Linked DNA regions of Homo sapiens: region 2 is linked to region 1. The links come from fine-mapping of genetic effects on gene expression. A gene starts in region 1. The other region holds a variant in brackets. All regions are shown on one strand. Distances are from middle to middle. Region 1 holds the start of MAGEC3 (MAGE family member C3). Region 2 has its middle 63 kb from the start of LDOC1.

What was found. PIP is the estimated chance that this variant, and not a neighbour inherited with it, causes the effect. A credible set is the group of variants that fine-mapping cannot tell apart.
Region 2: its variant is the best candidate, but not a certain one, in a credible set for the expression of MAGEC3 in cerebellum (GTEx, PIP 0.58).

Annotation. Positions count from the first base shown.
Region 1 is chrX:141,835,949-141,841,335 of GRCh38, reverse strand. MAGEC3 (MAGE family member C3) reads right to left here and starts at 3,020. Exons shown (of 8, transcript NM_138702.1): 1 at 2,898-3,020. The coding sequence starts at 3,020.
Region 2 is chrX:141,111,251-141,116,637 of GRCh38, reverse strand. No RefSeq gene overlaps it. Among named protein-coding and RNA genes, the nearest start is that of LDOC1, 63 kb to the left of the region's middle. The variant G/T (reference allele first, on the strand shown) is at 2,754.

The sequences.
Region 1 (5,387 bases):
ATGAGATTTAACTCAGGTGGTCAGGAAATTCCTCTTTAAGAAGATGCAATTTGTTTGGAGACCTGAAATATCCAAAAGGAGTCTTTGGATTTGATAATTAAAATGGCTTTGATGGTCTTGCAAAGTACAGCTTTATTTGAGTGGTAGAGACAGGAGTCAGAGAGCACCAGGTTGAAGAAAGAGTGACTGGTAAGTAAGAAGAGACAGACAAGAAGCTTCACTCTTGTGAGGCTTAAGTGGAAAGAAAAGAAGAAAGAAGAAAAGAAGTGAGAAGGAAAAGCAGAGTGAAGTTATTATCACATTATTTTTTACAATTCACCTTTAAAGTGGTTCCTGATGCTTCCTCTTACTTAAATTTTTATTTAATATTAAACATATTTATAAACTATAGTTAATTAGCCAGTAGAAAGGCAGATGTTGAAAATACAGAAAAAAAAAGAAGCAGTGGAGCAAGGTCCATTCTCAATCCCCTTGAATAGAACAATTTATTCATTAACTATTTACTGAGCATTTTTGTGTTTGTTTTGTTTTTGTTCTTGTGGGGTTTTTTTTTTTGATGTGAAAAACACACAAAAGCATAACTACCCACTGACCAATTTTGCAGGAGGACTCATGCTAATGCTAATACATCAGGCTGAATTTTAGACAGAATGGTTGAAGAAAATAAATGCTGAACAGTCCACTTTAATATGGCAATTTAGTGAGGAGAGGCACTCTCTCCCATTTAGAGACACAAGAAAATATTGCTTCTGTGAAAATCTTCTTAACATGGAGATGTTAGTAATGATGCCAAATTTATGAAATGTTCTTAAAGAGGTCTGAACAAAGTTTGCTACATAGAACAAATTCAAAATAATATGTAATTATATGTTTTTCCAATATCATATACTTTTGAAAAATGCAAAATCTTGTGCTAAATGTAACTTTCACTTTCTTAAATCACTTTTATGTCAATATTCTTATGAAAATATTTCTTAAAATTAAATGATATTTTATGACCTGATATTCTCTACTTGTCATTTATTTAGATTGCAAGCTAAAAACTAATTAGAAAGACTATACTTTTGCTGTTAACTTTCTCAGAGGTAAAATATCACTTTTCTTTAGTGGTTTGTGATGCTATGAATGAATACTTTCCAGGTTGGGTATTTCCTGGCTGTTAAATATCAGTTAAGTTTTGGCTGACTTCACCTCCATCTATCAACCTCCCTGCCAATCATTTAACAGCTATAGAATAGGTCTCCTCACACAAATCCTTCAGGAAGAATTTCCATTGTGCACATTCTGACCAGAAGAAAAAATGCAGCAAATTTTTGGAAAGTGAATCATTTTTAGAGTTCTGAGCAAATTATGTTAAACTCAGGGTTTCTCACTGTCAGCACCATCACATTTTAGGCAGTATAATTCTTTCTTGTGTGAGGTCGTCCTTTGTCCAATAAGACGCTTAGAAGCATCTCTGTCTCTGCTTATTAAATACCAGTAGCATTCCCTGCTGCCACCAATTATGACAACCAACAATATTTCTAGATATTGGCAAGTATCCCCTAAGTGGCAAAATCTCTTCCAGTTAAGAACCACTGAGTTAAGAACAGTAAGTAATGATCCAGGGAAAATGGATATAAAGATATTAAAAAGCTAGTAAAGCATTTGACATATTAGAAATGCATATAAACAATTCATATTTATAAAATAAAATCTACTGAAGATATAATGAATAAACACTTGTTTTGGTGAGCAAGCTTGGGATTGCAGCTGTGGGCCTGGAAGTGGTAGGAGCTGCAAAGCCTGCCCAGGATTAGCTGTAGCCAGAGCCGGCAGCCAAGACAATAGCAAAGATCAATTTGACCTCAAGATATAATCAAATATGACAGCAGAGTGAATGAAGCTTTTATTTTGCTCCGTTCTTCTCCATAATCCTTCTTATGCCCATAATCATTATAATTACATAAAATATTTAAAAACCTTTAAAAATTATTTCTTGGAAACCATGAATATGGCAGACTAGAGGCATTTTGTACTCACTTTCTCCATTAAAAATAACCAAACGGTGAGTCGATAATCACACTTTGAATATATAATTCAAAGGAAATCACTGGAATCCATTAGAAAAGTGATAGGCAATACTTAAAGCAGAGATGGAGAGGGAATCAAGGCAGCCTGCTCATCCAGGATCAGCTGTGAGCTGAGAGACTCCAAATACAGAGAAAGGATAGGTGAGAGAGCCTCAGTAGTTTACATTCTCACTATAGACTCCTATAATCCCAGCCACAGGAGATCCCTTCAACCATCATGGGCCCCGAAACTAACATAGAAAGCTGCCAGGAGATTGTATGATGGCACTGCTTCAGGGAGAAAGCTCCCGCTGGGTCCCTCACACTTCTTGAGACTTAAGCAGCTACAACAAAGTACCATTTTAGAGCCCTGCCCTCAACAGACTGAGCACTGTCCTGGAGCCCAGTAGCCCAGGGCTGAGGTGCAAGAGAAGCACGAACTGCTGCCCCAGGGACATAGGCATCAGTGACTACAGACTACAGCATCTGGTGCAGAGGTGGGACGAAGGCGTGGGCTGCTGCTTTTAGGACTGAGGCACAAATGAGGCACCACTGCAGAGCCTCACCCCCGATGAACTACATACTGTCCTGGAGCCCAGTGGCATTGAGGCCTAGGTGCAAACTAAATGTCTGATGTTTCCCTGGAGATTCAGACATGAGCGACCACAGGCTACTGCAACCAAGGGAAAGACATGAACATCAAGGCTGGGCAAGATAGCATCTTAGAGCCTCACCCCCAACAGACTGCACACTGTCTTGGAGCCAAGCAACACTGAGGCTGAGATGCAAAAGAAGAGCTGGCTGTTAACCTGGGGCTTAGACATGAGCATTCATGGGCTACCACACCTGGGGCTGAGGTGGGAGCACCACTGGGGATAAGGCATATGTGGCACATGTGTTTTTCACCCACTGGCCTAGACTGCCATCACTGAAGGTGGCATCCAACACCCAGTGGCAGGGCAGCAGCATGGCCACTGCCACCCTGTCTTTACCAAAGAGATAGAGACCATAAAAAAGGAACGAACAGAAATTCTGGAGCCAAAGAATGCAGTGAATAAACTAAAAAATACACATGAAAGCTTCAACAATATACTCAATCATAACTGACTTATGTTAAGATCACATTTTGCTTGAAGACAGTTTTTTTTGAAATAACGCTGTCAGACAAAAATAAAGAAAAAAAGAAAATAATAAAATAAACCTTTGGAATCTATCTAACAACATAAAGTGACCAAATATAAAAATCACTGATAGCCCAGAAGGCAAAGAGAGAAAACATGTTTTCAAAGACCTATTTATTGAAATAATAGATGACACTTCCTAAGTCGAGCAAGACACTTAGACATTGAGATACAGGAGGCCCATCAATTCCTAAACAGATACAATGTGAAAAGGTCTCTTCCATAGCACATTACAGACAAAATATTTAAAGTTTTTTTTTTCTTTTTTTCCAAGATGGCAGATTGGAAGCATTATAAGCATACTTATCCCACTTGGTAAGACAAAATGGCATGTAGAGATTCATGCTGTAAAATTTATTCGAAGAAACAATGTAAGAACTTAACAGAAAAACTGAAAGAAACCACAGACCCTTTGAATGAAGTGGCAGGCAACAGACTACATCATAAAACAGATGGAAAACCATTAGTCCCCAGAGCATGAGAGAGGGATAGATTGCTGTCATGACATATACTCCCACAGGCGAGCCAGGCAATACAAGTCATGAGGGAGGACTTCAAACCTACTCAGCTCTAGAGGTGATTCAGTGAAAAGTAAGGAATATATAAGAAGGAGCAGCATCGGGACATGCTTTGTGTGCAGACCCAGATTCCAGCAAGAATGGAGGGAAGCCATTCCTGATCCCACCTCACGGGACGTTGCAGAAGTCTAACTCAGGCTGCAGTCACAGTTTGAGAGAAGAGCCCAACTGGGATTTGTGATATAATCCTTAGTAAGGACAAAGCTGATTGGCCAGAACCGAGGGGCAAGTGAGAAGTGTGCTACGGCAACAAGGCACATGAGCTGCATGGCCCTGCTTCACAGGTGGACTGGAAAGGATGCAGCCTGAAAGATATGGTTTCTGTGTCCATAGGGAAAGCTTATGGCCTGGGATGGTTTTAAATTCTGAGCACGGGCCACTTGAAACCCAGTTAGCTGCTGCTGCTAGCAGAACACTGTGGGTATGAAAACTGACTTGCCAAGTGTGTGGGAGCTGAGTGGGGCTTATTACAACCTGCTGCCTCCCACTTTTCAGGCAGATTTTTTGTGCAGCAGAGGCAGCTGTGTTCCTGCCTGGAACATTACCCCACCAGCCAGGGAACTGCCCTCGGATCCCCACTGGGGCCACTGCTTGCACCTGCACATGGGGAGCCAGAGTGCAGACTTGCCTGACTCAGTTTAATAACTTCTGAGGCACAATGAAATCATCCCAATGCCTCCATGTTCAATTTCAGGCACTAACAAGTCCCTGAGGTATTAAATGCATTGCTTTTCTGCGGTCTTGCCACCTTCAGGAGCTTACTAAGAAAATGAAGAAGAGCCACGATCACTCCTCTCAATTAGCCTCTTCCCTTGGCTGAGAAATGTGTTTCCGGTCTTGAGAACACAGAAGTTTTGCATTTGCTCATGAGAGATCTGAAACCTTCTGACACTGCCCTGCATCTTTTCCATTCCCTCTAAATAGAGAAGACTCTTCTCCTGTCTCCTACCTTCTGCTCTGACATCCATTCACTAACACCTAGGCACAAAAAGCCTAGTTCACCCAATGGCAGAAACGGCTAAGGTGGGCCTCTTCCAAGCTATGAACAACATTTCAAAGCTTAAGTCCCTACCCTCTTCCAACACAATGTCCTTTTCATTCCTCTAGCTCAGTAGTGCTCAGATTGGGGGTGATTTTGCACCCCATCCCAAGAAGACATTTTGCAGTCTGGAAATATTTTTGGTTGTCACAACTGGGATGGCTCTTGGTGCTATCGGCATCTATTGAATAGAAACTAGGAATGCTGCTAATCATTCTAAATTCAGCAAGATGACACCCCCTCAAAAAAGCCCACAGAACTATCTGTCTCAAAATGTCAATAGTAATAAAGGTGAAAAACCCTGTAGCTCATTCCTTAATAGGCCACCCAAAGAGATTTTGGATGTTTTCATTTATAAAATTATGCATATATTTTGGCAAATCAACAGCTGTTTCTCACCACTGATGGTTAGACAAGGGAAAGAATAAGGAGACTGATATTATAATGAGCTCATTCTATGCCAGGTACAGTGCTCAATACTTCAGATTTATATTATCACATTTAATCTGTTAAAAATGTCCCAACATGTAGTAACAAG
Region 2 (5,387 bases), 720 kb after region 1:
TTTTTTCCAGATTGATCTGGCTAGAGGTTTATCAGTTATATTAATCATTTCAATGAACTACCTTTTCATTACATTGATTTTCCTTAGTATATTTTTGTTTTCTATTTCATTCATTTTTGCTTCAGTTTTATTATTTTCTTTATTCTGTTTATTTTGGATTTAATTTGCTCTTTTGTCTTATTTTCTAAATATAGAAGCTAAGGCCATTGTTATGAGACCAGTCTTTTTTGTCTCACTCTGTTGCCCAGGCTGGAGTGCAGTGGCACGATCTCCATTCACTGCAACCTCTGCCTCCTAGATTCAAGCGATTCTCTTGCCCCAGCCTCCCGAGTAGCTGGGATTACAGGCGTGCACCACCATGCCTGGCTAATTTTTGTATTTTTAGTAGGGATGGGGTTTCACCATGTTGGCTAGGCTGGTCTCGAAATGCTGACCTCAAGTGATCCACTGGCCTTGGCCTCCCAAAGTGATGGGATTACAGGTGTGAGCCAATACACCCGGCCGAGACCAATCTTTTATGATGTAGAAATTTTAGTGCTATGAATTTACCTCCAAATATTTTTAAATCTGGGTCCCACAAATTTTGGTAGTTTGTCTTTTCATTCTCATTTAGTTCAAAATATTTTCTAATTGTATCTTATTCTTTCCTTGATCCATATCCTCTCCAGAACTATGCTATTTAGTATTAAATTACTTGGGAACTTCTTAGACATTTTTTTCTGATATTAATTCCTAGTTCAATTTCATTGTGGTCAGAGAATGTACTTTGTATGGCTTCAATCATTTTACATTTATTCGACTTGTTTAATGATCCTCTATCTGGTTTATCTTGGTAAATGTTCTGTGTGTGCTTGAAAACACTGTGTATTCTACTGTTGTTGTGTCATGTGTTCTACCAAAGTCAGTTAAGTCAAGTTGTTTGATATTGTTTTTCAAGTCTGTATATTTTACTGATTTTTTGTCTGCATCTTTTATCATTTATTAAAAGAAGAATGTTGGCATATTTGACTATAATTGTGAATTTGCCCATTTCTCCTTTAAGTTTTGCTATTTTATTCAATGTTGACTTTGAAGCAGTGTTATTTTGGATACCTAAATATTAAATATTTAAATTCTTATATTTCCTTGGTCAATTCTCCCTTTATCAGTTTACAGTGTCCCTCATTTTGCATGTGATATTCTTGCCTCTGAAAGCTACCGGATCATATTATACAGGTATTCTAGCTTTGTTTTGAAATAATGTTTCCTCTTTGCATTTAATGTGGAAATTACTCTTCTAATGTTTTCAATGTTACAGGTAGCTTTAATTTGCTAAGGTGGCCATAATAAAATACCACAAACTGAGTGGCTTATACATCATGTATTTGCTCACAGCTCTGGAGGCTGTAAGTTTATTATCAAGGTGTTGACAGGGTCGGTTTCTTCGGAGGCCTCTCAGAATCTACCATGTCTCTTGCCTAGCTAAATCAGTGATTTTCTGGCGGACACTGGCATTTCTTGGCTTTCAGAAGCATCATTCCAATCTCTGCCTTTGTTTTTATGTGACATTCTCACTGGGTCTATGTCCAAATTTCCCCTTTTTATTAAAAGGCCAGTAGTATTGGATTAAGTCTTGCCCTAATTACTTCATCTTAGCTCATTACTTCTACAAGAACCTTGTATTAAAATAATGTGACATTCTACAGCACTGGGGGTTGAAACTTCAACATATTAATTTGGGGGAACAAAATTCAACCTGTAGTGTTGGTATTTTCTTCTCAGTGTCTAATCTGCTATATATCCCATTCAGTTTATTTTTCATTTCAGACCTGTAATTTATATCCATAGAAGTTTGATTTTGGTATGTTTTATATCTTTCATATGTTTACTTAACATGTTCAACCTTTCCTCTTATTTATTGAACATATATAATATAGTTAGAATACCTGTAGCTTTTTTTTTTTTTTTTTTTGAGATGGAGTCTTGCTTTGTTGCCGAGGCTGGAGTGCAGTGGCACTACCTTGGCTCACTGAAACCCCCTCCTGGGTTCAAGCGATTCTCCTGCCTCAGCCTCTCGAGTAGCTGGGACTACAGGCGCCTGCCACCACGCCCGGCTAATGTTTTGTGTTTTTAGTAGGGACGGGGTTTCACCGTGTTAGCCCGGATGGTCTCGATCTCCTGACCTCGTGATCTGCCCGCCTCAGCCTCCCAAAGTGCTGGGATTACAGGCATGAGCCACTGCACCCAGCCGTCTGTAGCCGTTTTAATGTTCTTGTCTACTCATTCTATAGGTGCCATTTTCTGGTCTCTTTCTATTGAATGGCTTTTCTGCTCTTATTTTCTTTCCTTCATGCGTGATTGGTAACTTTTTATTTGATGTCAGACAATGTGGATTTTACCTTTTTGGTGGTGTTTTTCTTCTCCTAATATTATTTTCACACTTAAATCTGAGATGCTTTAAATTTACTTGGAAAAAAAAAACATTGATTCTTTCAAGGCTTGTTTGTAAACTTCATTAGACAGAACCAGACTAGCTATTAATCTAGGACTATTTTTCTTCCACTACTGTGGCGATACCCTCTGACGAACCTACCTAATATCATGTGAAATACAAGGCTTTTCACTCTGACTTGTGGGAAAAAGAAATGTTTGAGCTCTAAGAATTGTTTTTTTCTGCTGTTTACAGATAGTTGCTTCTCCAGCTTCAGTTAGTTTCCTCACATTCATGCACTGATTCATGCTCAACTAAAGCTGAGAAGGACCTTCAACAAATC[G/T]CTGCAGTTATCTTATTTTTTGTGCAGCTTTCTTTTCTCTTGTATTCTTCCCTGAAAATTGTAGCTGTATTTCCCTTTTTGGACTCCTAGCTCTGTCTTCTCAACTTAGGGAGGCCACTGGATTCCATTTAGGTTCTCCGTTTCTTTTTATTTTATTTATTTACTTATTTGTTTATTTTGAGATGGAGTCTTGCTCTGTCGCCCAGGCTGGAGTGCAGTGGCCAGATCTCAGCTCACTGCAACCTCCGTCTCCAGGGTTCAAGCAATTCTCCTGCCTCAGCCTCCTGAGTAGCTGGGACTACAGGCGTGTGCCCCCACACCTGGCTAATTTTTGGATTTTTAGGGGAGACGGGGTTTCACCGTGTTAGCCAGGATTGTCTCGCTCTCCTGACCTTGTGATCCCCCCACCTTGGCCTCCCAAAATGCTATGGGATTACAGGTGTGAGCCACCGCGGCCGGCCTGAGTTCTCCCTTTCTATGATGTAGCCTGAAGTCTCCTTTCAGACAGTAAGCCAGGACAATCGTAAGGGTTCACTTTGTTTTCCCTCTGTAAGGAATTATTTTCTCACACTACCTAATTTCTAACGCTTAAAAAACATTTATATATATATATATGTATATAGTCCAGTGTTTTTAGTTGTTTCTGCCAGGAAGATAACTCCATTACAAGTTACCCCATCTCAGCTAGACAGTTCCTAAGAGAATACATTATTGGCCGGGCATGGTGGCTCATGCCTGTAATCCCAGCACTTTGGGAGGCCAAGGCAGGTGGATCGCCTGAGGTCAGGAGTTCGAGACCAGCCTGATCAACATGGAGAAACCCCGTCTCTACTAAAAATACAAAATTAGCTGGGCGTGGTGACACATGCCCGTAATCCCAGCTACTCAGGAGGCTGAGGGAGGAGAATCACTTGAACTCGGGAGGCAGAGGTTGTGGTGAGCTGAGATCACGCCATTGCACTCCAGCCTGGGCAACAAGAGTGAAACTCCGTCTCGAAAAAAAAAAAAAAGAATATATTATTATATAACTTTTTATTATGAAAATAATATTTTCTTATAAAAATTTCAAGCAGTGCAGATGTATATACAGAAAAACTTGCATTTCTACCATTCTCTCCACCCTCTATTCTCCCAAAATTCAACTGAATTACTGGTCCTCAAAGGAAACAGCTTGCAATTGGTATGCTCACTTACAGATAATTTTATATTCATTTAAATATATATACAAAGATTCATAATATAGTCATATACATATATGCAAATATTAAAAATACATAATTATATATTTTTTAAACAGGGTCTTGCTCTGTCGCCCAGGCTGCAGTGCAGTGGCATATTCTCAGCTCTCTGCAGCCTCAACCTCCCAGGCTCAAGCAATTCTCCCACCTCAGCCTCCTGAGTAGCTGGGACTACAGGCATGAGTCACCACACCTGGCTCTTTTTTTTTTTTTTTTTTTTTTTTTTTTTGTAGAGAAGAGTTCTCACTGTGTTGCCCTGGCTGGTCTCGAATTCCTGGACTCAGGCAATCCTCCTGCCTCAGCCTCCCAAAACGTTGGGATTGCAGGCATGAGCTGCTGCGTTTGGCCTACATAAATATTTTGACATAAATGAGATATTAAGTACTTTTGTAAATTAATTTTCTTGTCTAATTCTGTATCTTTGTTTTTCCTCTATATTTGCCATACATATCTATGTCAATATTTTAATTGTCTGCATATAACTTCATAGTATGGATACATCATTTTTAAATGTAGGTATTTCTCTATTGATGTACAAATGTTTTTCACCAGTTTTTCTGTTTAACAAATGTTACAATGAACATTTTTGAATCATATGTTTTCGTGCACATGTGTAGCATTTCTAAAAGGAAAATTCTTAAAAATTTAATGAGCATTTTAAAGTTTGCTAGAAATTGCCAAAATATCCTGCAAAGTACTTGTACTTTGTTCTAACAGTATTAGGATTTCCTATTCCCTCATGATTTTTGTTGTCAATCCAATGGAAGAAAATTGCTTCTTTGTTTTAATTTATATTTACTTTACGAATAGTAAAGTTGAATATCTTTTGTTATCTATTTGTAGTTATTAATCTGTGAATTGTTGCCATATTTTTCTATTGGGTTGTTTGATTTTTTATTTATAGAAAAAATTTGTATAGTCATTTGTTTGTTATACATATCACAAGTATTTTCTCCTAATCTCTTCTTTATATTTTAACTTTGTATAAGAAATAATTTGCCGTATAGAAATAGTGCTGGAAAACATGTCTTTTGAGAAAGAACATACCTTGTTCTATTTTTTTCCGCTTTTGAAAATTCCATCTCATCCACCAGCTGCAGGACAAATCACTGAACTAAATGTTTAACTGGTTTTGAGAAAGAGAAAAACAGCTTCTGACATTCACAAGCTATGCCCAGTTGTTGCTAGGAGCTGGCTTGGCACTCACAGCTAGGCCTTGGTATTACTCTATCAGGAACATCAGCATTAAATGAGGCCGCTGTGTGACCATGACGGATGAAGGCGAAAACAAGACCGCTCTGCAATCATGTCTGAACACAGACAGAACATGGACATTGTGCAAGTCACAAGAATGACCAGTTATCTCACTATTCTGAATAATATAAGTTGCTGGGTT